2 separate regions of the Homo sapiens genome follow, and region 1 is linked to region 2. The links come from fine-mapping of genetic effects on gene expression. A gene starts in region 2. The other region holds a variant in brackets. All regions are shown on one strand. Distances are from middle to middle. Region 1 overlaps ADD2 (adducin 2). Region 2 holds the start of ADD2 (adducin 2).

The links. PIP is the estimated chance that this variant, and not a neighbour inherited with it, causes the effect.
Region 1: its variant is fine-mapped to the expression of ADD2 in cerebral cortex (GTEx, PIP 0.98).

Annotation. Positions count from the first base shown.
Region 1 is chr2:70,654,267-70,665,109 of GRCh38, forward strand. It overlaps ADD2 (adducin 2), which reads right to left. Exons shown (of 16, transcript NM_001617.4): 16 at 2,518-9,469. The coding sequence ends at 9,159. Among named protein-coding and RNA genes, the nearest start is that of TGFA, 110 kb to the left of the region's middle. The variant T/C (reference allele first, on the strand shown) is at 5,768.
Region 2 is chr2:70,763,750-70,774,592 of GRCh38, forward strand. ADD2 (adducin 2) reads right to left here and starts at 4,451. Exons shown (of 16, transcript NM_001617.4): 1 at 4,137-4,451. RefSeq lists enhancers at 3,586-4,151, 4,152-4,717, 5,127-5,691, 7,774-7,823.

The DNA.
Region 1 (10,843 bases), 110 kb before region 2:
TAGCCAGGATTAGGGGGGCCACGGTGCCCTTCCTTGATCCTATCTGGATTCTGGTGCTTCACATCCCTGACTCTTCCTCACTTCCTCGTTACTTAGATCTTGCAAATAGGGTCCTGGCAGTGTGAACCCCAGCACTTTCCTCATTGTTCTTGAAACCAGGAGGGGCCTCCACCACATTTTCCTGACGATCTCTCTGCCACCCTCACTGCTCCCTCTGAGTAGGAGCTATCTCAGCTGTAGGTCCTTCCCACTTCTTCTCCAGCCTGACTTTCCTTTCACATGTAGTGAATTGTGGGTTTCACTTCCTGCAGTTTCAGTTACCTATGGCCAACCAGGGTCCAAGAAAATTAAATGGAAAATTCCAGAAATAAACAATTCATAAGCTTTTGTTGTTGTTGTTTTTGAAATGGAGTCTTATTCTGTCACCCAGGCTGGAGTGCAGTGGTGCAATCTCAGCTCACTGCAACCTCTGCCTTCCAGGTTCAAGCAATTCTTCTGCCTCAGCCTCCCAAGTAACCTCCTGAGACTACAGGCGCCCGCCACCACACCTGTCTAATTTTTGTACTTTTAGTAGCGATGGGGTTTCACCATTTCGGTCAGGCTGGTCTCGAACTCCTGACCTCAGGTGATCCACTCGCCTCGGCCTCCCAAAGTGCTGGGATTACAGGGGTGAGCCACCGTGCCTTAAATTGCGTGTTTGTTCTGAGTAGTGTGCTGCAATATCTCATCATCCCATTTGTTCAGTGCTATCTACCTGGGAGCACAAATAACCCTTTGTCAGTGTATTCACGCTGTCTACACTACCTGCCCACTAGTCACTCAGTAGCCGTCTTGATTATCAGATTGGCTGTAACAGTATCACCATGCGTGTGTTCAAGTAATGCTTATTGTACTTTTATTACAGCACATTGTTATAATAGTTCTAATTTATTATTGTGAATCTCTTACTGCTCCTAATTTATAAACTTTCTCAGAGGTATATATGTATAGGAAAAATCATAGTGTGTCTAGGGGTCAGTGCTATTTAAGGTTTCAGGCACCCATGGGGGGGTCTTGGAAAGTATCCCCAGCAGATAAGGGGGTACTGCTGTATATGCGCTGGAGAAATTTCTTAATATCTCTGGCAGATAGAGGGCACTCTGCTCCTACATTAGTTTCCCTTTAGTCATAGTGCAAACTTAGGAAGAGTTCAACTTGTGGGTTTGCGTGACAATCTTTTTTTTTTTTTTTTTGAGACAGAGTTTCGCTCTTGTTGCCCAGGCTGGAGTGCAATGGCACGATCTTGGCTCACCGCAACCTCCGCCTCTTGGGTTCAAGCAATTCTCCTGCCTCAGCCTCCCAAGTAGCTGGGATTACAGGCACCCGCCACCACGCCCGGCAAATTTTGTGTTATAAGTAGAGACGGGGTTTCTCCATGTTGGTCAGGCTGGTCTCAGCATGATAATCTTAAACTGTAGCAAGCTTTATAAAGTGGTGTCAGCAGATTGACTATTGTCCTTGACCTGATCGATGTACACAGCTGTGAGAGCACACAGAAGTCATATTCCTTACAGGTGGATTCCTGGGTGACTGCAGCAAGGGAGAAACTGATGGCTTTGGGGCACCCGAGGGGCTGGGTTCCTTGTTTCCAAGTTTACAGGAGCTGTGGAAACTTCAGGATACCTGGATGCAAGAGGAGGAAGAGGGGCTCTACCCTTGGATACAGGCAGTCTGTGGAAAGCAGACGTGCCCATAACAGTGGGCCTGAGAGTAATGACGGGGACTGCTCTTGTGCTCAGGGCACCCGGCAGTGAGCAGCAGTGGAAAGAGCCAGGGCTTGGTTACCTACAAGACCTTAGCTGAACTTGGGCTTTACCACATATTAACCTGTGGCCCAAGAAAAGTCTCCTTACTTCATCTGTAAAGTAAGTAGTAATAACAGAATCACCCTCTGGGTTTTATGGGGGCTCAGTGGGTGCGATGCATGAGATACTTAAACAACACCTGCCACATATGTGTGGATACTCAAGGAATACTGAGCTTCCACAGTAGTTTTTGAATAAAGAGGAGCCAAAGGCTCTCTTTCCTCTTTTCTCTCTTCCTTTTTCCCCACCTAGTCTCTCCATTCTCCTTTCACCCCTTGGGGTGACTTCTTAGCCCTCTCCAAGATTCTCACTCTGGCCTGACACCCTCTTCCATTCCAGCCTATAGATCTGCCGCTGCTGCTGCCCTGCAGGGCCGTCCACATGTGTGTTTGTGCAATGCTCCTCCCCTATCCCAACCCACCTAAACTGAGCTTCCTCCACAGAGCTGTTTCAAATCCACATGGCCATTTCCTTTTCAGGAGAGTCTAGTATTTTATAACCGCCCTTCCCAAATCAGAACACAAGTAGACACATGTTCAGCTTTCCGTGTGTGAGAAATGGCCTCAAGGGTACAATTTTCTTGCGTGGTCCATGTTTCCACAGGGCCCCCTTTCTGACTTCTCCCCTGGGAGCCAGGAGAGCTGAGGAGCCGACAGAGATGGGGCACACACACTGGGAAGCCAAGCACGTTAGATTTACTAGGGTCATGTCTGCAGGTGAGGTAACAGCACACACATACAGAAATTCACGGGCAGAGATGCCACCGCAGCATCACCGTCAGACACCAAAGCAGCAGGAGGGCTCAGGAAGTGGCTTTGGAAAGTTCTCGTGAAAATCAAAGGGCAGCTTTGGTGCTCAGAGATTCAAACAGAAAACTATACAAAACCAACCCATAAATATATATATATATATAATATGTGTATATATATAAAATTGCAAAATAAAAGCCCAAGAAACTAACCACCGATCTGCACGTCAGTGGCTCAAAAAGTGTTAGCATAGAGAAAGGCAAAACCATCTGTGGGGGTGATGCATACTCAAGGGGGCCGGCATTTCAGTAGCAGAAAGAGTATTTACATGGAACCCCTATTTGAAACCTCACAATACTAGGAAAAGCTAAACACAGACAATGTATGTACAAGGGAAGACAGTAAGTACTCTTGCGTGACGATTGTCAGACACAGACATTTCACTGAAACCATCCATAGCTTTAGAGAACACTGCATTCTATCTAGACTGGGTTCCTGCTTGCCTGCACCCCAGCCAGGCGATCTCAGGCTCTGGACCGTATGTTCTCCCCCACCTGGCCTCTTCCCGGAGAGAGCAAACACTAAGATGTTGGTTGCAGCATAAATTGCAGGAATTTAAAGGTGGGGCAGTCCTTGGGTATCAATCAATCACCCACAAAGCAGGACCAACAGGTGTGAGGTGGAGTGGAAGTGTGGGGGTGGGGTTCCCTGAAATATATTCCCATTTTATAATGTGTTTCAAGTGTGGCCACTCTGCCCTTGGTCCAATTGCCATCCTCCTTCTGATTCACGTTAAAAGGGGAGATCTGGCCTTTGGGTTTTTAAACATTATACAAGATAATTTGCTGGGGGAGAGAAGAGTTTAGGGTCTTTCTACAGTTATTCTCCCACCACCCCCCAAACTCTTACGTTTTCTTTAAACTACCTAGAGATAAGCAATTTGCCGATCACAGCTGGCCTCAGTTCGGGACACAGTGGGTGAGGAGAGGAGCCCAGGACCTGACTCTACTAGAAAACTGCCAGTGCTTTCTCACACTGAGCCTCAGACTCCAGCTCTGCCTGAACCCCTTCCCTGCACCAATAATGATCATTTCTCCCCCATCTGCAGGCCCCAATTTCCCATAGCAATGACCCAACTTTTGGGAAAATCTAGAAGGTAAGTGGCACCAAACATCAATATAGCCAAACCTAATATCACCTAAGTATGAACCAATGCGACCCATTGTTTCTGTATACATAAGAACACTCCCAGCTGGAGATTCTTCCTAATTGTTCCTAAGATGAAAAGCCTACATTCTCAAGGGAATTGTCTCTATAAAAATGATGAAAGGTGTTCTCCACTAAGGGACACCCCACTGAAGTCCCCACACTGCTTCCCGGTGAGCGTGGCTGCTCATTGTGAGAGGTAAAGGGATGTTGGGCATTCCTTGGTGACCGAGCTCTACGTGTGGTCTCTCATTTATGACAGAAAGTGTGCCACATCTGAATAGGTTGGTTAGACGGGGCTTCTGGAAGTAATTACACTCCATGTACGCTTTCTTATGTTATGGTGCAAGTGGAAATGTGCACAGATAACCAATGTGCACATTTCATGAGTTTACAGTCACTACAGGCCTCTTACTTCTTGCATTAAACTATCCCTTTCAGAACAGATGTGAAACAGATGATAGGCTGCCTCACTGGCTTTTAGATTGTAGGGTGCCCTGTCCTTTCTGTGGGAGTGGAGAGCTTAAATTTAGCCTCTCCCTCATTTCTTTTCAGACTCTTTGAGTGCTAAGGTCTTAGAGTTCAACTGAGCTCCAGTGATGAGAGAGAATGTAAAAAGACCTGTTTCCTCTATGCTCAGTCAACTGCGACTGTGCCAACCAACTCTAGGGCTTCTGCTGACCTGCATGTGTAAAATGAGTAAGGGGTAAATGTTCTCTCATTTGTTCACTAGTCAAGAACTGATTACCCTTGTCCCAAAACTAGAACATAAAATTCACACAAAAGAAAAAACGTGTCAGCTGGCACAGTGGCTCATTCCTGTAATCCCAGCACTTTGGGAAGCCGAGGCAGGTGGATCACGAGGTCAGGAGTTCAAGACCAGCCTGGCCAACATGGTGAAACCCCGTCTCTACTAAAAATACAAAAATTAGCTGGGCAAGGTGGCGGGCTCCTGTAATTCCAGCTACTTGGGAGGCTGAGACAGAAGAATCGCTTGAAAAACCGGGAGGCAGAGGTTGCAGTGAGCTAAGATTGCACCACTGCACTCCAGCCTGGGCAACAAAGAGCAAAGCTCCGTCTAAAAAAAAAAAAAAAAAAAAAAAAAAAGAAAGAAAAAGAAAAAACATGTCATGCAGACCTATGCGTAGGCTGTGTGTTTACCCTCCACATACCTTCATGGAAAAATTGAAAATTATTTTTAGACTTTCAGAGGCGAATCATGCTGTTGGGCAAATGGTTCTTTCAAATCCATGGCAATCAAAGAAGTGGATTTATAGCATTTTCCCCCACACTAGCAGTAGCCCTGCTACAACAATGCCAAACATCTGAATGACTGTCTTGCCATGTCACCATGAGCAAGTGACGGTATCATCCACAGGGAATGGGATTCAAATTCAGTCTACATGGATCAGTGGCAGAGGGCAGTGCTTTACAGTGGGGTTCTTACTGTAAGAACTTACTGCTCTTCATCCAATTTCCCCCAAGTCCTTTAAAAAGAACTTATCTGTTCACAGAGGAAGAACCCTGTTTTAGTTATAGGAGAGTGGAGGGGGTCAACTGGCCAAAGTAGGACAGTTACTTGGGTTGCATGCAGGCCAGGAGGCTCTTAGGGAGTCCAGATCTGGGCTAGAAGGTGTCTCTTTCTGCAGTTTGGGAGGAAGGTCACATGGTATGGACGGTTCTCTCACACCACTGTTGGGTGCAGCCAACACTACGCAAGGAGCCGTTGGAGCCAAGCCTGTCTCTGCGAAACCACTAATCCTTCTTGTCCTCTCTCCTCCTGCCTGCCTTGCGATGGAAATAAGCTCAGAAACCTCTCCACTTCCCAGCTCAGCCAGCCACAGAGCAGCACATTGGTTCAAATGTTACCCTTTTCTCTGGCACATCCAAGCACAGTAGCTCAACCAGACATGAACCTACTGCCCACCAAATCTGAGCTCTTGAATACACATTTTCTCCAGTCAGATA[T/C]TGGTCAAAGTTTTCAGCCAACTTTTATCCACAGCCAAAGAAAATGGCCTTTCCTTTCTAATAGCCTGTAGATTTGTTTGGACCACATGTCTGTTTCTGTAGCATTTGGTGCATGTCCTCAAGCCTGGAGCTAAATGTGCCACATTCTGTGCAAGGGAAGAAGAAATGGCAGGATGGCTGGACACCTCTCCCAGCAATTCTACACCAAGACAAAATAAAACTGGAAACATTAGCTCTTTGAATGCTCCCCTCTCCTTGTTGAAAATCCCTCTTAAGGTGCTTTATCCAAAGACTTTTATGGAAATAAATTTTGTGTTGGAAACTCACTATCTGCTGTAGAGGAAACATCGTGTAAAGCAGGCCATCAACTATGTTTTAGTATTGACATTTCAAAAAGGCCTCATAGCTCCCATGCCACCATCCCACGCCCATCCAGTCCACAGTCTCCATTCAGCCACCAAAGGGATTTTCCTAAAATGCAATTCTGATCATGACTCTATCCTGATTTAAAGGCTCCAGTGGCTCCAAACCCCTTCCATGACAAGTCTAGCTCCTCCACACTTCCTACCAGTTTCCTTAGGATTCAGCCCTGCCTACCTATGAAGGGACCCCTCAACCCCTGAGCTTCCACATCATGCTCTGGCAATGCCACGTTGCTCAGCGGAACCCATCATGGCATTTCATGCGTCCACACCTTTGCACATTCTTCCCTCATTGTGGCATGCCCTGCCAATCCTTTCATTCTACTGGAAATTTACTCTTTGTTTTAAAACCTTAGCAGCCATTGCTTCTCTCAGGGTTTCTCTGGTCCCCAAGATAGTTAATTGATGCTTTCTTATGCCACCTTGGTACCCTTGCCTGTTTTGCAATTTGTCTATACACCTCCTATGCTCATGAACTTCTTGAGGGCAGGAACTATGCCTATCCTCATGCCTGGCCCTTGACCCAAGCTCAATGCATGTTTTTGGAATGCATGAGGAATGAACCAACTGACAGGTTCATCTATCAATAGAAAGTGGGCCCATGGCATAAATTCCCAGAATAATGCTGCAGCAAGACTCCACCCAATGAGGCCTAAGTGAGGCCTCATTGTCAAGGGAATAGAGTGTGTTGAATGCAGAGGCAATCAACATCACCCCCGAAGTAGAACAACTCGCACACAAAAGGCTGCATCAGAGGTCGTGTTCACCATTCTCACAACATCGTTTGCCACTTATTATTCTAGTCATAATGATGGCTCTCTTTCAACGTCAGCATAATGCCTGGTGCTCAGTGGATCCTTAACAAATACCATGTAAGGATAAATGAATAAGTGTGAAATCTACTTTTTAAAAGAAGGCATCAAGGGATTGGCTTTTAAAGGCATTTCCCATATGACAGATTTTTCTGAGGCATGAGTGGGTTGTCCCTCCTAAAATTTGACCCAATCAGGAAGTAGAACAGAGATGGAGCCTGGGGTAGCAGTTAGGAATCTGCACTAGAGAGACACAGTGTCAGGTTTACCTTGGTCCTAGGTCAGTTTCCTTCCTTCTCAAGAAATAGCCAACTATGGATGGTATTTCCCGCCCCAACCAGAAGGCTCTTGCCTCTCCTTTGTCAGAGGCACACAGTAGCATCACCACAGTCCACATTGACCAGGAACTTCACGTGCAGTGATGAGGATGAGCACAGGGTGTTCCCTACCTTTGCTTCACGTGCTAACATTATGCAATGGAGAACAGTCATAGAGACAAATCCTGGATGAAAACCACCACCCCTGGGGATTAAAGTTGTCTGTTCACCATAGCTGTTAAGAGCAAGGGCTCTGGACTCAGACTGACCTGGATTCAAATCCAGGATCCAGATCTTTCTAGCCAAGTCAGCTGGGACAAGTCAATTATCATTTTAGGGGGTCAATTTCCTCACCCACAAAATGGGAATGATCTTACCCCCCTCAAAGGATTACTGTGAGGGTTAAAGAATGTAATGTATGTGAAGCCTGCACAGTGTCTATAGATAGCAAGTGCTCAAAAGTGGAAAACTATGATTAAGAACTTTCAAAAATATTTTCACGATAGTCAGATCAAAAGGAAAAATATTCTTTCAAGACACGGTGCTTTCAAGAGAATGGATTGTCTAATTTTTAGGAGCCAACAAATGCTCATTAATCAATGCCCCACGGAAGAACATGAGAAGACAGTGTTGGCATTTAAAACAATAACTGTGGCCATTACCAGGCCCCAGGATGGACAGATAGGGACAAGGACAGGGATACCCAGCATTTCTCTGAGAGCTGGTGCAAGAGGATTAATCCTGAAGGGCTCATTTCTGATTCTCCTCTGCTGGACAAAGAATGACTGAGTTGGAACCTCAGAGGGTGCAAGTCAAGGTGCCAAGAGTAAGATGCCAGTTTCGGTCTGTAAGCAAGTGTTTCTGGGGGTGAGGGAAGGTCAGGGGAAACCTGACCACTGGACAGGAGTGAGGCAGGTACAGTGCATTGCTCCAGGTGTCATGCAAAGCTAGAAAGTCAGCATTTCCTCTGTTGTTTTGATCCTCCTTATACAACCCAAAGCCAACAGAGGATTTCAACTTCCCCAAATTTCTGCCCTGAGCATTAAACAACTTTTTCCTATGCTAAATTTGGTTTTAGTTTTGAAGTGCCTGAGATGCACAATTCAAAGGGGTCAAGTTCCTGGCCTCTTATGTTGATGAAACCATCCCCAATCCTCAGCTTACATGGCTTGCCCCTATGCCTACCACCTCTTATAGCTCTTCCATCCATCATTCAAGAGGTTCCATGAAGAAAGCTCAGGGTTAATGTTTGGGGTAGTACAAGCTAAGCCATCAGCCCTTGGGAACAAAGATTACTTTCTGTTGGAGGGGTCAATTTGGCTAGTCACTTTGAGCAGCAGGGCAGGGACCCAAAGTGGAAAAGAGAAGAGATTTTTAAATGTAGAGATAGCTCCATCCACAGGAGATTGGATTCCTGGGAAGAAATGGACCTTACTCAGGGGAAGCCTTGACCTCTGATTTAGTCTGAGCCTGTGAGAGCTCACGGCCCATTTCTGGCCTTCTTGCCCTAGGCTCAGATTGGTGGACAGCATCCAAACAAAGGCAGCCCACAACTAGGCAGTGTTGTGTAGTAGAAGGAGCACTGGACTGGAAGTCAGGAGACCTGAATTCGAGTGCAGGCTCTGCCGCTAACTAGCTGTGTGACCTTGGGCAAGTCACCTGATTTCTCTTGGGCAACTGTAAAACGAAGGGTTGGTCGGGTGATCTCTAAGTTCCCCTTCCGAATGTGGTCCAGGGTCCTACTCTATCCCTCCTTAGCCCTGTGCTTGCAGGGACAGAGATGGGAGAAGGGAAGGGGAGGAGAGAGAGGAGGCAGGAGGGAGCCCAAGGGTGTCATGAATCAGGACTCCACTTTCTCCTTCTTTTTGCTCTTTTTCAGGAAGGAGGGGGTTCGGAATTTCTTTTTCTTCTTTGAGGGAGACTTGGAAGGTGAGCCCTCTGGGGACATGGGGCCGCTGGTGACCGACTCGGTTTTGTCCTTAGAGGTATCAACATCCGTGTCAGCACTGGTGGTCATCTGGCTCAGGCCTTTGCTGAGGATTTCCTCTGCCGTCTGCTCCTCCTCCCTCCCGTTGACCACCACCCCTTCCGGCTGGGTTGTTTCGGGCTCTGTGGTGGCGGCTTTGCTTGTTTCTGTCTTCTTAGTACCTTCTAGAAAAAGATCAAAAGATATGACCTGTAAGATTTCATTCAGGTGACAGCTTCCACCTGGGGCTAACAGAACCATTTCTAGGGAATTCTATAAAATCAATCCAGAGCGAGGGGAGGGCCAGCCTGATGTTGAGGGATGGCTACCAGAGACAGATGGAAGGACTGGGTTCTGATCTGCACCTTCCATGTGGCCTGTCCTGGGAACACCCCCTTGCAGGCTGGCAGCTCTGGGCTCTTGTCTATGAATTTAGATGGATATTAATGTCTGAAGTGGCAGGAGGCCCGGCTGGGGTCCAGCTCAGAGTTTTTCTAGGCAAGAAAGAAGAAACAGACACAGAGAAAGGAGAAGGCGTGAGGTGTACAGCTTGGTGGAGACATCTAAGCATTGCTGTAACCAGTTTAGTTTCACCAATAAAAACATGGAAATTACATGTCCTCAAACCCATTTCATTTTCTACACCAGTGAGGAACTCCAAGAAATATGGAGAATATCTTCCCAGTAGGCAGAGGGAGAGTGGAATTCCTTATATAACACAGACCCCATATTTCCAAGACATGTTAGTCAAAAGGGGAAGACCCCTGGTCAGCCCTTTCTAGCAGCCACTGGGGCCCCCAGGTCTTTATTCCACCTGGGAATCTGTCGGGATCGCGGGAATGTTCAAGGCCAGAGTTACTCAGGCCCCAGAAACCAAACCCTCCTGCCACCCTTTCTCCCCCTCCCCACTCTCACTCAACCTTGCTTCCACACAACCTTTCAGATGCCTGGATGGGGTGAGAGTCAGGGAGATTGTAAAACCACAGACTGAAAAGTAGAAAGCAAGGTAAATATTATCTGATGCCTCTCCTCCCCACTGCACAGTTAAGAAGGCTGAAGAACACAGTACCATGGTGGGCAGACCTCGGCTTACCAACTTCCGGTTCAGCTTCTTCTCACGACGGGAACTGAAAGGAGTGTGTGTGGGTGAGCACGTGTGAGTGTGTACAAGTGTGTGTGAGTGTGCAAGTGTGTGTGTGGGTGTGTGAGGGTGTGCAAGTGTGAGTGGGCAGGTTGTGTGTGGTGTAAGTGTGTAAGTTTGAGTATGCAAGTGAGATTGTTTGCCATGAGTGTGTCTGTGTGTGTGGTGTGAGCATGTGCGAACCAGTGTGTGTGACAGTGAGTGGTATATGAGTGTGGGAGTGAGCGTTTACAAATGTGTTTGTGTAAGTGTGTGTGAGTGCACATGAGCATATGCGAGGGTGTGAATGTGTGCGAGTGAGTGTGTGACACACCTGTGTGGTGTGTGTGTGATGGGCACATATGAATGCAGTGTGTGTGTTGCCACATCACAAGAAGGAACCCGGCATGCTGAGGTGTATGGAATCGTGGGTGATGTG
Region 2 (10,843 bases):
ATATTATTATAGGAAATTGAGCAGGAGAGAGGTTGAATAACTTGCCTAAACTCTCACAGCTAGTAAGTAGAAAAATAATTTTTGAAGTCAGACAGTCTGGTGTCACTTAACCATCAGAACAAATTACCCATCTCATTTTCTTTTCTTTTTTTTTTTGAGTTGGAGTCTCGCTCTGTTGCCCAGGCTGGAGTGCAGTGGTGTGATCTCGGCTCACTGCAACCTCTGCCTCCAGGATTCAAGTGATTCTCCTGCCTCAGCCTCCCGAGTAGCTGAGATTACAGTTGCCCACCACCATGCTCAGCTAATTTTTGTATTTTTAGTAGAGATGGGGTTTCACTATGTTGGTCATGCTGGTCTCGAACTCCTGACCTCAGGTGATCCACCTGCCTCGGCCTCCCAAAGTGCTGGAATTACAGGCGTGAGCCACCGCGCCCGGCCCCATCTCATTTTCTTAGATGTAAGGTACCTATTGGAGAGTTACTAAATATGCATTAAATGAAGATCTAATTCAAATATTGTTAAAATCCACAACAGCAACTTTTCTGTTGTGTTTTTACTACATCTGCTGCTAATAAATTGCTGCAAACTTGATCCATACAAAGATGAACTGGCGTGAGATCTTCAATCCCTGCCAATAGAGCAGTGGTCGCCAGGAGCTGTTCTTTTGGAGTTGGCAAGTTGTGTGTGTCCTGTGTAGACTCACTCTCTCCACTATTCCAACTCCCCTTCCCTTCACCCAGGCTGTGGCTGGAGCCACCAGGCCTGCCCATGGCTCAAATGGAAAGATACAAAGGCAAACGCAGACTCCAGCATCAGTTTCAGCCTTGCCATCAAGATGATCCAGAACACATTTTTACTGCTAATTATTTATGATTATCACTGGAATAGGCCAGGCATAGTGGCTCATGCCTGTAGTCACAGCTACTCAGGAGGGAGAGGTGGGAGGATCGCTTGAGCCCAGGAGGTCCCGGCTACAGGGAACTATGATCATGCCACTGCATTCCAGCCTGGGTAACAGAGCAAGATCCCTACTCAAACAGTCTGGGTGACAGAGCAAGATTCCGCAAAAAAGATTATCACTGGAATAAAACCACTAATGTCAGAGAATACACAGATCTTTCAAAATACGTATATCTTCAGAACCCCAGGGGGCTGAGAGACCTGTGGCATGATATCATTAGCTCATGCTGAGGGCCATTGTGAAAAACAACCCTATGAAACTTGTCCTTGTGTCTGATGAGGAGGTGATCGAAGGCATCATTTCAAACACTATGTCACATTAGGAAAAAGTTCCTTTCTGGTCTCGGAATCAAGAACTGTTGGTTGGGCAAAGTGGCTCACACTTGTAATCCCAGCACTCTGGTAGGCAGAGGCAGGTGGATCGCTTGAGGCCAAGGATTTGAGACCAGCCTGGCCAACATGGCGAAACCCCGTCTCTACTAAAAATGCAAAAATTAGCCGGGCGTGGTGACACGCACCTGTAGTCCCAGCTATTCGGGAGGCTGAGGCGTGAGAATCACTTGAAGCCAGGAGGTGGAGGTTGCAGTGAGCCGAGATCATGCCACTGCGCTCCAGCCTGGGCAACAGAATGAGATTGTGTCTCAAAAAAATATAAAACATAAAAAATAAAAAAGAATTGTTGTGTTTTTATGTTCTGGCCATATAATGTTTTGTGTTTTGTGTTTTTCCCACATAGCTGTTATCACAATTTGTAATTATATATTCATTTGAGAGATTTCTTGATGAGTGTCCATTTCTTGCATTTGTCTTTAAGCGCCCATTAGACACAGACCACGTCTATCTGCTTTATCCCTTTGTTCCCAGTACGTCTTACAGAACCTGGCACGTAGTAAGTCCTCACTGAATGTTTGTTGAGTGAAGAAGTGTGTGAATGAGTTTAACAAATAAATAAAACATATAAGCCATGGGTTCGTCAATTTCTTTTTTGCTTATGCTGCAAGAAAGTTTAGAGCTGTTTTTGTTTCCTGCCCGTAGCCATTGTAGAAGGTCTCATGCTCATGTTTTTGTATCAGCCTCACGCTTAAGACCATTTTATGACTCCACCCTTAGTGTCCTTTTTTCTTTCCCAACTACTTCCAAGTTAGGCTGCCTTGCCATATTTATGAATCCCTGTAAACTATCTTAAATCCCTTGTGGAAGAGGTGGTAATAAATAAATATATCTACTAGTCTTTTTTATATATATTTAAAATCTTAACACTAAACCCACTGCCAGCAAACACATTTGCTCAACTGTTAACCTTAAGAATAGCTGAGATTTGCTAATTCCAACACTATACTAATATTTAAAACAAATTCAATCCAAGCCTAGAAACCACAGCATATCATGTCAGGCATTGTTGTACATTGTGTATATGACAAGCATATTTCTAATAAGGCTAGGCAATTTGGTGGACAAGAAAGAACATAGGGCTTACTACAAAATTCTTATGGATTTTGGATCAAAGAATAATTTATCTTTAGTGGTTTTTCAAAATGTGTTGACATCATACCAATAATGAAAACTTTGCTTTTACTTGTGCCCTATGCAGGGAGGAGTAGGGAAGAAAGGCTGGGCAAGATCCTGATCTATAGGAGAAAAGTCTCTACAGAGAAAAGTTTGATCACATTACACAATTAAAGTAGAACCTTATAAAGTAAAAATATTAAATGGTCTAAACCCCCCTTTTAAGTCTCTAACATATATTATTCATATGCTAATGGAGATATTATTTGCAAGTCTGAAACGTCATAGTTCTCTTCTTTGGTCAGATTCATTTAAAACACTTTTACTTCAAATGCTGACTTGCTATTTTTCTCTTAAAACGGAACATAATTTTCTAATGCCATTAATGAGAACACCCCTCACTGCACAAGTTAAACATCTCAGGAATCCCAGCTAGATCCACAAACTAGACATGAAAGCAGTTGCTTGCACCCTCTCCAATCCCTTTGCTTCTGCCAGGATGCCAGACCAACCACTCCTTTTGGGTTACTCGGGAAGCACGAAATGTGCATTTAGGAAACTGAGATTTGATTTCTATTATCGATAAAGCTCATCTGAGTCAGTTGAATCTTAGACGACAAACAGCAAGAGGGAAGAGTGGGTGTAAGGAAACAGATGGGTATTAATCATGTGTCAGAGATAAATGACAGTTTTTTAAAGAATTTGATAGGGTGTGGGCTGGAGCTTGCTTTTTTATTTTCTATTTCTATTTCCTATTTTCTATTTTTAGTTTTGGGCAAGAGATGGAGATTAGGGGTGAGAAAAGGAAGGAAGAGAAAAGGCAAGACAATAGGCCAGACCCGAGAGCCTGATCTGCATCCTAAAGCAGTCTGCCCCTCCCTCCCTTCCCCCCAACACCAGGTAGGCTGTGGTGTGATTTAAAAATAAGCAGACACCGACTCCCGCCTCCGGGACCGGGGATGGCCTCCGCCCCGGCTGCAGAAAGGGAGGGGAGGCAGGGAGAGGAGAGGGAAGATGGAAGAAACAGACTGGCAAGACCCCCTCGGGTACAGTGGGATTTTTCCCTCCAAAGTGGTGGAGCCGCATAAAATCAAAACCCACGAGGCCCGCTCACGTGCCGGTTGCCCCGATCTCAATGTAGGCGGCTGCCGACGCCGCACCTGCTCGGCCGGCCACTGCGGCTGAGCGCCGCGCAGCCAGCGATCGCGAGGCCCCGGGGGACGCGCCCAGCCCCGCCAAGCCCGCCTCGCACCGCTACCCCGGAGGGCGGCGGCCGAGCGGGAAGGAAAGAGAGGGGAGGGGAGGGAGGGGAGGGGAGGAGCGGCCCCGCCCGGCTAGGCGAGGCGAGGCTTGCCGCCCCTCCATTCGGACCCAAAAGAAAGCCCCACCTGTCAGGCGTTACGCTCCGGGCGAGGGTCCCACCATCCCCAAGCAGGGGCCAGTGCTTGCAGCCCCGATTTCCTAAGAGCCTCGGATGCTACATCATCACCAGAAACCTTTAGGCGCAAAACACACCGCTGCCGGCCAGGGCTGCAGCACCGACGCGCTCGGCAACAGACGCGCCCCACCTGGGCCAAGCGGCTCCCGCCCGGCCGAGGGATGCCAGGGTCTCCGCGCCAGGAGACCAGCGACCCCAGGCAGCCCACCAGGCCCGCTCCCCAGACCCTTACCTCCTGCGCGGCATCTTAGCTATCTCCGGTCGGCCACTGCGGGTTGGTTTTGTTATTTTATGGGTTTGGGGGGTGGGGTGCGCTTAAAAAATCCACCCAGCTAATCTGCAGGGCAGCGTTTTCTGCCCATGCTGCAGCCCGCGCTCGTCAGAGCTGCTGGGAGATCCCCCAGCAGTGCAGCGGCTCCGCGGCGGCGGGGATGACTGGCCACCGACGCCGCAGTTCCTTGACAAAAGGCTCGGGTTCCCGCTAGTCCCTCACAGCCCTGCCGTCAGAATTAAAGCCATTTCCCGCACGAGGCTGGGAGGAAATGAGAGCTCTCCTGGCCCTGCGCGCTGACAAAAGGCCGCTGCGCGGTGCCCACAGCGCCCCCTCCAGCAGGCCGCGCCGGCCGCCCGAGGGCCGCGGTGCTGCAGTGCCCCCGCCCGCAGCGCCCCCCACCGCCCCGCAGCGGCCTCGCCCCGCAGCACCCCCACTACCGCCCCGCAGCGCCCCCCTCCTCCCCGCAGCGCCCCCGCCCGCGCCGCCGCAGACCCCCCTAGCCAGGCTTCCAGCCCCCTTCCACCCCCGCCCCGCACCACTCACTACCCGGGATGGCCAGAGCTAAGCAGGGGAGTCTGTTACTAGGGAGAAAATCTGAAACAGAGCTCCCTTGGGGGAATGTATTCTCCCTGGAAGGAAGAAAGCAAAAGTCTTAGACTTGGAATATTTCTTTTCGTCTGGAAAGGACAGCTAGCCTTCGGAAGATAATTCTATTAGTGATTTTAATAGCAATTGTTTGACTGAATTCCAAACCAAAATTCTCCCTGTCCTGATTCTCACTCCTTTTCAACCAGGACAACATTTTTGTTGTGGCCCTGCCCTTGGGGGCTGTGGACCCAACGCTCTCCAACTCTCACTACATTCTCCTCTCACTCCTTTCCTTCCTCAGGTCTCCCGCCCCAGAAGGAACAGGTGTGTAGTGAGTGGGGAACTGGATAGGGAACCAGAATACTTCGGTTGCCGTCTCAGAGCTGCTCTTAACTAGCTGTGAGACCTTAATCAACCCACTTAACCTCTCTGGGCCTCGTTGTCTTCCTCTGTAAAATGACAGTGTACCTAAGGCACCTCCCATTTCCAATACTTTCAAGGCCTGGCCCTCAGAGAGTAGGGGTGTTAAGAGATAGCTCTGGACTTTTCACCCCCATAATCTCCACCAGTCCCCAAAACTCCCCTCAATCAACATCCTCTCCAAGGGCTTTTGAAAATGTGCTTGTGAAAATGTACAGCTTCCAGAAAAGCCTCTGGCCACTGATCTGAAACCTGATCATGGCCCCTCTGCCCTTCCAGGTTCTGGGGCACCACAGCCCTCAGACACCCCCACAAAAGTCACTGGCCCCCACCACAGTGCTGCTGTGGAACCAGAATCTCTGGAGGTAGGCTCAGGATTGGTAATTTTAACAAGCAGCCCTAGTGATTCCTTTGCACACTAACACTTTAGAAACACCACTCTGAGAGCTACTACTGATTTAGAAAAGAAAATGCTAACGACAACCCTAGATGCCAGGATAAACTTGTCTTTCTGCTTCAGCCCCCCTTCCAAGAAACATACATGCATACCTGGTCCCTGCACCCTCCTTCCACACTCAGAGCTTCTCACTCATTCTCATTCAGAATCACCGAGTCCACAAGACTTCTCCCCATTCTCCTGTCAAAACCTGCTAGAAGAATTACAACAGGCTCAGCCACACAAGATGAAACCCCTTCCCCTCCCCACCCCAGGACCTAGGTCTGTCTGGTCAAAGAAGCCAGGACGTGTTATGTTTATTGAGTCATTCCTGGCAGCCATAGCTCTTTTGGTGCTAATGGGTGATGAGATCTGAGAAACAGGGAACCCCTTCTCCAGAGCTCAGAAGTCACAGGTAAGGTGGGCTCTATATCTTAATAGAACCCCCAAAAAGAATGGAGAATTTTTGTTAGAAATAGCAGGTTTCATAAGTCACCCCAGTCATTTCCATCCCCCAAAATTTCTCTTCCTAGTGTGTTATTTTGTTTTCTCACATGAATCCTAGCAAACCCTTGTTGGTTCCTGGCACTGTTCTGAGAGCTTTACATGCATTTTCACATAATCCTTGCAAAAACTCTGTGAGGGTGGTACTATTATCATCCCCATTTTATAGATGAAGAGACTGAGGCACAGGGATGTTAAGTCGCTTGCCCTAGGTCACACAGCTAGTGGGTGGCTGAGCAATGAATCAAACTCAAGTGCTGTGGCTCCAGAGTTTGTGGGCCCTAACCACTACACTGCATGGCCTCCCAGAGGGGACAATAAACTTTTTTTTTTTCTTTTGAGACAGAGTCTCATGCTGCCCCCCAGGCTGGAGTGCAGTGGCATGATCTCAGCTCACTGCAACTTCCTCTCCCCAGGTTTAAGCGATTCTCCTGCCTCAGCCTCCCGAGTAGCCGGGATTACAGGCACGCACCACCACACCCAGCTAATTTTTGTATTTTTAGTAGATATGGGTTTTCACCATGTTGGCCAGGCTGGTCTGGAACTCCTGACCTCAGGTGATCTGCCCGTCTCAGCCTCCCAAAGTGCTGGGATTACAGGCGTGAGCCACCACGCCTGGCCAAAAATAAACTTTTTAAAGCAGAGCTGGTACAAGACACTGAAAGGCTGATAAGACTAATACATTCTCCTTCCCCCCGGCAAAAAAAAAAATGATTCTGCTCCCCTAGTCATCACAGGAGATACATATATATATTTATGTTTATATATGTATATATTATATATATTACATATACACAATATATATTATATATATTACATATATTTTTATATATATATGTCCGGCCTCTCCCAGGGTCTATCTGATACTGCATACTGAGAAGGTGGTGCCATCCTGGGACTTTAGGAATTGTCCAAATGTCAGAGAGGAAATAAGACTTCATTAATTCCCATATTCATAGCCTATATGAAATTTTAATTGAAGTTCCAGAAATTCTCAATTTCAAATTCACTTCAAAATCCAGGAAAAGGAACCACAACTGTAGTTGGCTCCAACTGTCAATGGGAGACCAGGAGACTTCAGAGCTCCCACTGCAACAAGCCCAAGATGCCTGGCCCTTAACTGGGGCCAGAAAAACACAAGAGACCCCCATGTCAGACCGGGGAAAAATCACAGCTGGCTAACCCTCCATGGCCAGATAGTTTAAAATTAGACTCTCTGACTGATTTGCAGTAAAATTTCTCATCTTCCAAGTCTTCTGACAAAAATGTTTCTGGCCAAGAATAACTAGTAGAGAGAGAAGCTGGCAGTGCAACAGTGAGCCCCATCTCCTGGTATCCATTGCCCTGTGTATTACCCTCTCCTTAGGTGCTGGCACGACTGTGGCTCACTTCTAACCGACAGGATAAGGCAAAGATAATGGGATGTTCACTTCCGTGATTACATTACATAAGATTCTTTGTCTTGCTAGCAGACTGTCTCAGTTGGCGTCTTGACCTGCATGCTTTCATTAGTAGCCATGTTTGGAAGATCTACATGGCAAGGAACTGAGGGTGACATCCAGCTAATAGCCAGCTGGAAACTGAGAACTTCAGTCCAAAAAAGTCCTAGAGGAAATGAATCCCACTAACCATCACATAAGTTTAGAGGCTGATCCTCCCCCAGTTAAGCCTTCCACTGAGAACCCAGCCCTGGCTGACACCTTGATTTCTGCCTTGTGAGAGACACTGAAGCAGAGGACTCAGTTAAGTCATACCGAGACTCAACTCCTGGCCACAGAAACCATGAGATAATAAATGTGTTGTTTTAAGTTGCTTAGTTTGCATTAATTTGTTACACAGCAATAGATAACTAATACGGGGGCTTAGCACTCTATAGGCCCAGGCATGCTTATCAATGGCCTTTTCTAGGGCATGCTGGAAATGCTGGAGAAATCAACACCCCTGGGATCAGCCCTCAACCAATGACCATTAGGAGTTTGTGGATAAACAGCCTGGCTCCCTCATCCCTGAGAGTTGGGAGAATACCTCAGTGTTCTCCATTGTCTCCCAGAGAGCCTCAGCAGGATTGAGCCCCAGCTGCCCACAGCAGTAACCTACCTGCTCACTCACGCATCTTTTATGGGCTTTTCTTCCCTATATCACTTTCCCACTCCCTTACAGGTGCCTCCCGGGCTTGCTTCCCAACTTACACTCAAATCGTAATCTACATTTAGGGGAACCCACTTTAAGATGGGGCAAGGGAAGGAAGACAGTGCTTTCAAAGGAAGACCACTGATAAGTTGTAAGTCTAGATGTTCTGAAGATACCCAATAAATGAAAGTTCACCTCTATGGCTGATGCTGCTCTGGAAACAGAAGTGAATTGGGAGTCCAGGGCCTAGGGCTCCAATCTCAGTCCCAGGGAATGTGTGGACTTAGGAAAGACCCTGACCCCTTATTCTCCCTTACCCAGCTATAAAGTGAGGGTGACAGCACTTGCTCTCTGTTATGGGCTGAATCTCATCCCCCTCAAATTTATGTGTTGAAGTCCTAGCCCCCAGTGCTCCACAATGTGACTGTATTTGGAGCTAAATCCTTTAAAAAAGTAATTAAGGTAAAATGATGTCATATATGTGGGCCTTAATCCAGTATGACTGAGGTCCTTATAAGAAATTTGGACACAAACTGGCATAAAGGGATGACCATATGAGGACACAGCAAGAAGGTGGCCATCTACATACACTCCAAGAAGAAATCATACCTGCCCACACTTTGATCTCAGACTTTGAGCCTCTAGAATGGTAAGACCACACATTTCTGTGGTTTACCATTACCATCTGGGATGCTTTGTTATGGGAGCCCCAGAAAACTACTACATCCTCCACCTGGCCAAGGTTGTCATGTAGACAAAATGGGACGCCAAGTGAAAGCACTTATGGTCTTATTACCTATTGAGACAGCCAGACAGTGTAACCCCAGCCACACCAGGAAATAACCAGAGTGGTTCCAGAGACAAGAGAGCCCCAGACTCCAGTTCCCACCCTCATGTTAGGTCCAGACCTGGAGAGCTGTGGATAGAGCTCTTCATGTTGAGCCCTGATAACATGTAAGTCCCTCTGGGGGAGGCCTTCCTGTACCCGATGTTAAGTGCACTAGTTCCTCCTACCAGCCCACAAGAATTTTCTTTTATGATCACTGCTTGCCCAGCAGGATTTATTATTCTGCAGTTCTTATTCCTAGAAGGTGCTAAAGCTTTCAGAGTCTGTCTTGAAACTTGGAGCTGATGCCTCAGATAGACCCAGGGATTTGTTCCTGGTACCATGACTCTCTTACTACCCAATGCCCCTCAGGCAGCTAGACCCAGCAGATGGCTCTCATTCTGATTCTGAGGAATTCCGCTTAGGGTGTGTACAACTCACATCAGTAAGGGCTTCCTCATCCTTACCCCGAGACCCAGTTCCATTACAATGCCACATTCAAAAGAAATAATCCCACTGCCAATGCCTTGAAAAGTTCTGCAAGTCATTGAATAGACGGAAAGGAGAGGGAGCAGGGGAAATTCTCTCTCGTCCTCTTTGTTCAATGTAGTCCCACACCAGTGGAAGTTATCCCAGGAATTCCTAACCCTTCTCCTACCTTCCAGAGCTTTTCTTCTGTAGGTAGCTCTCTTTCCTCTCTAATAAAGATGGTGATATGGTTTGGCTGTGTCCCCACCCAAATCTCATCCTGAATTGTAGCTCCCATAATTCCCACTTGTGGGAGAGACCCAGTGGGAGATAACTGAATCATGGGAGTGGTTTCTCCAATACTGTTCTCATGGTAGTGAATAAGTCCCATGAGATCTGATGGTTTTGTAAGGGGTTTCCCCTTTTGCTCGGTTCTCATTCTTTCTTTCCTGCCACCATGTAAAACGTCCCTTTGCTCTTCCTCCATCTTCCACCAGGACTGTGAGGCCTCCCAGGCCATGTGGAACTGTGAGTCCATTAAACCTCTTTTCCTTTATAAATTACCCAGTCTTGGGTATGTCTTTATTAGCAGCATGAGAACAAACTAATACAGCTAGTCTCAACTTCTGTTCTCCTTCCTTCTCTTCATTTACACCATTCCCCCTGATGAAGACAAGGGACCCAAAGCCCAGTAGACAAGCAAACAAAGCTACTCTTTAAGGTGGGGGAAGGAAAAAGGCTATGATCAAACATCCCAGTTATCTATGAGGGTATTTCTGGATGAGATTAACATTTGACTCAGCAGACCAAGTAAGGCAGATTGTCCTCCTAGTGTGGGTGGCTTCTGGACTCCAACTTAAACCATTGGCTCTCCTGGTTTTCAGACCTATGAACTCAAGCTGCAACCATCCTATTGGCTCTCCTGAATCTCCAACTTGCTCACTGCAGATCTTGGTACTTCTCAGCTTCCATAAAGGCATTAGCCAATTTCTTGCAATAAATACATAATCTTCTGTTGGTTCTTTTTCTCTTGAGACCACCAATACAGATTTTGGTACCAAGAGTGGGATGTTGCTGTAAGAAATACCTAACAATCTAGAAGTGGCTTTGGAACTGGGTAATTGATAGAAAATGGAAGAGTTTTAAGATTTATGCTAGAAAAAGCCTAGATTGCCATAAAGGGACTGTTGGTAGAAATATGGATGTTAAAGATATTTCTGGTAAGCATTCAGAAAGAAAAGAGGAGAGCTGGAGAGAAGCATTCATCTTCTCAGAGAATAATCAGAAACAGAA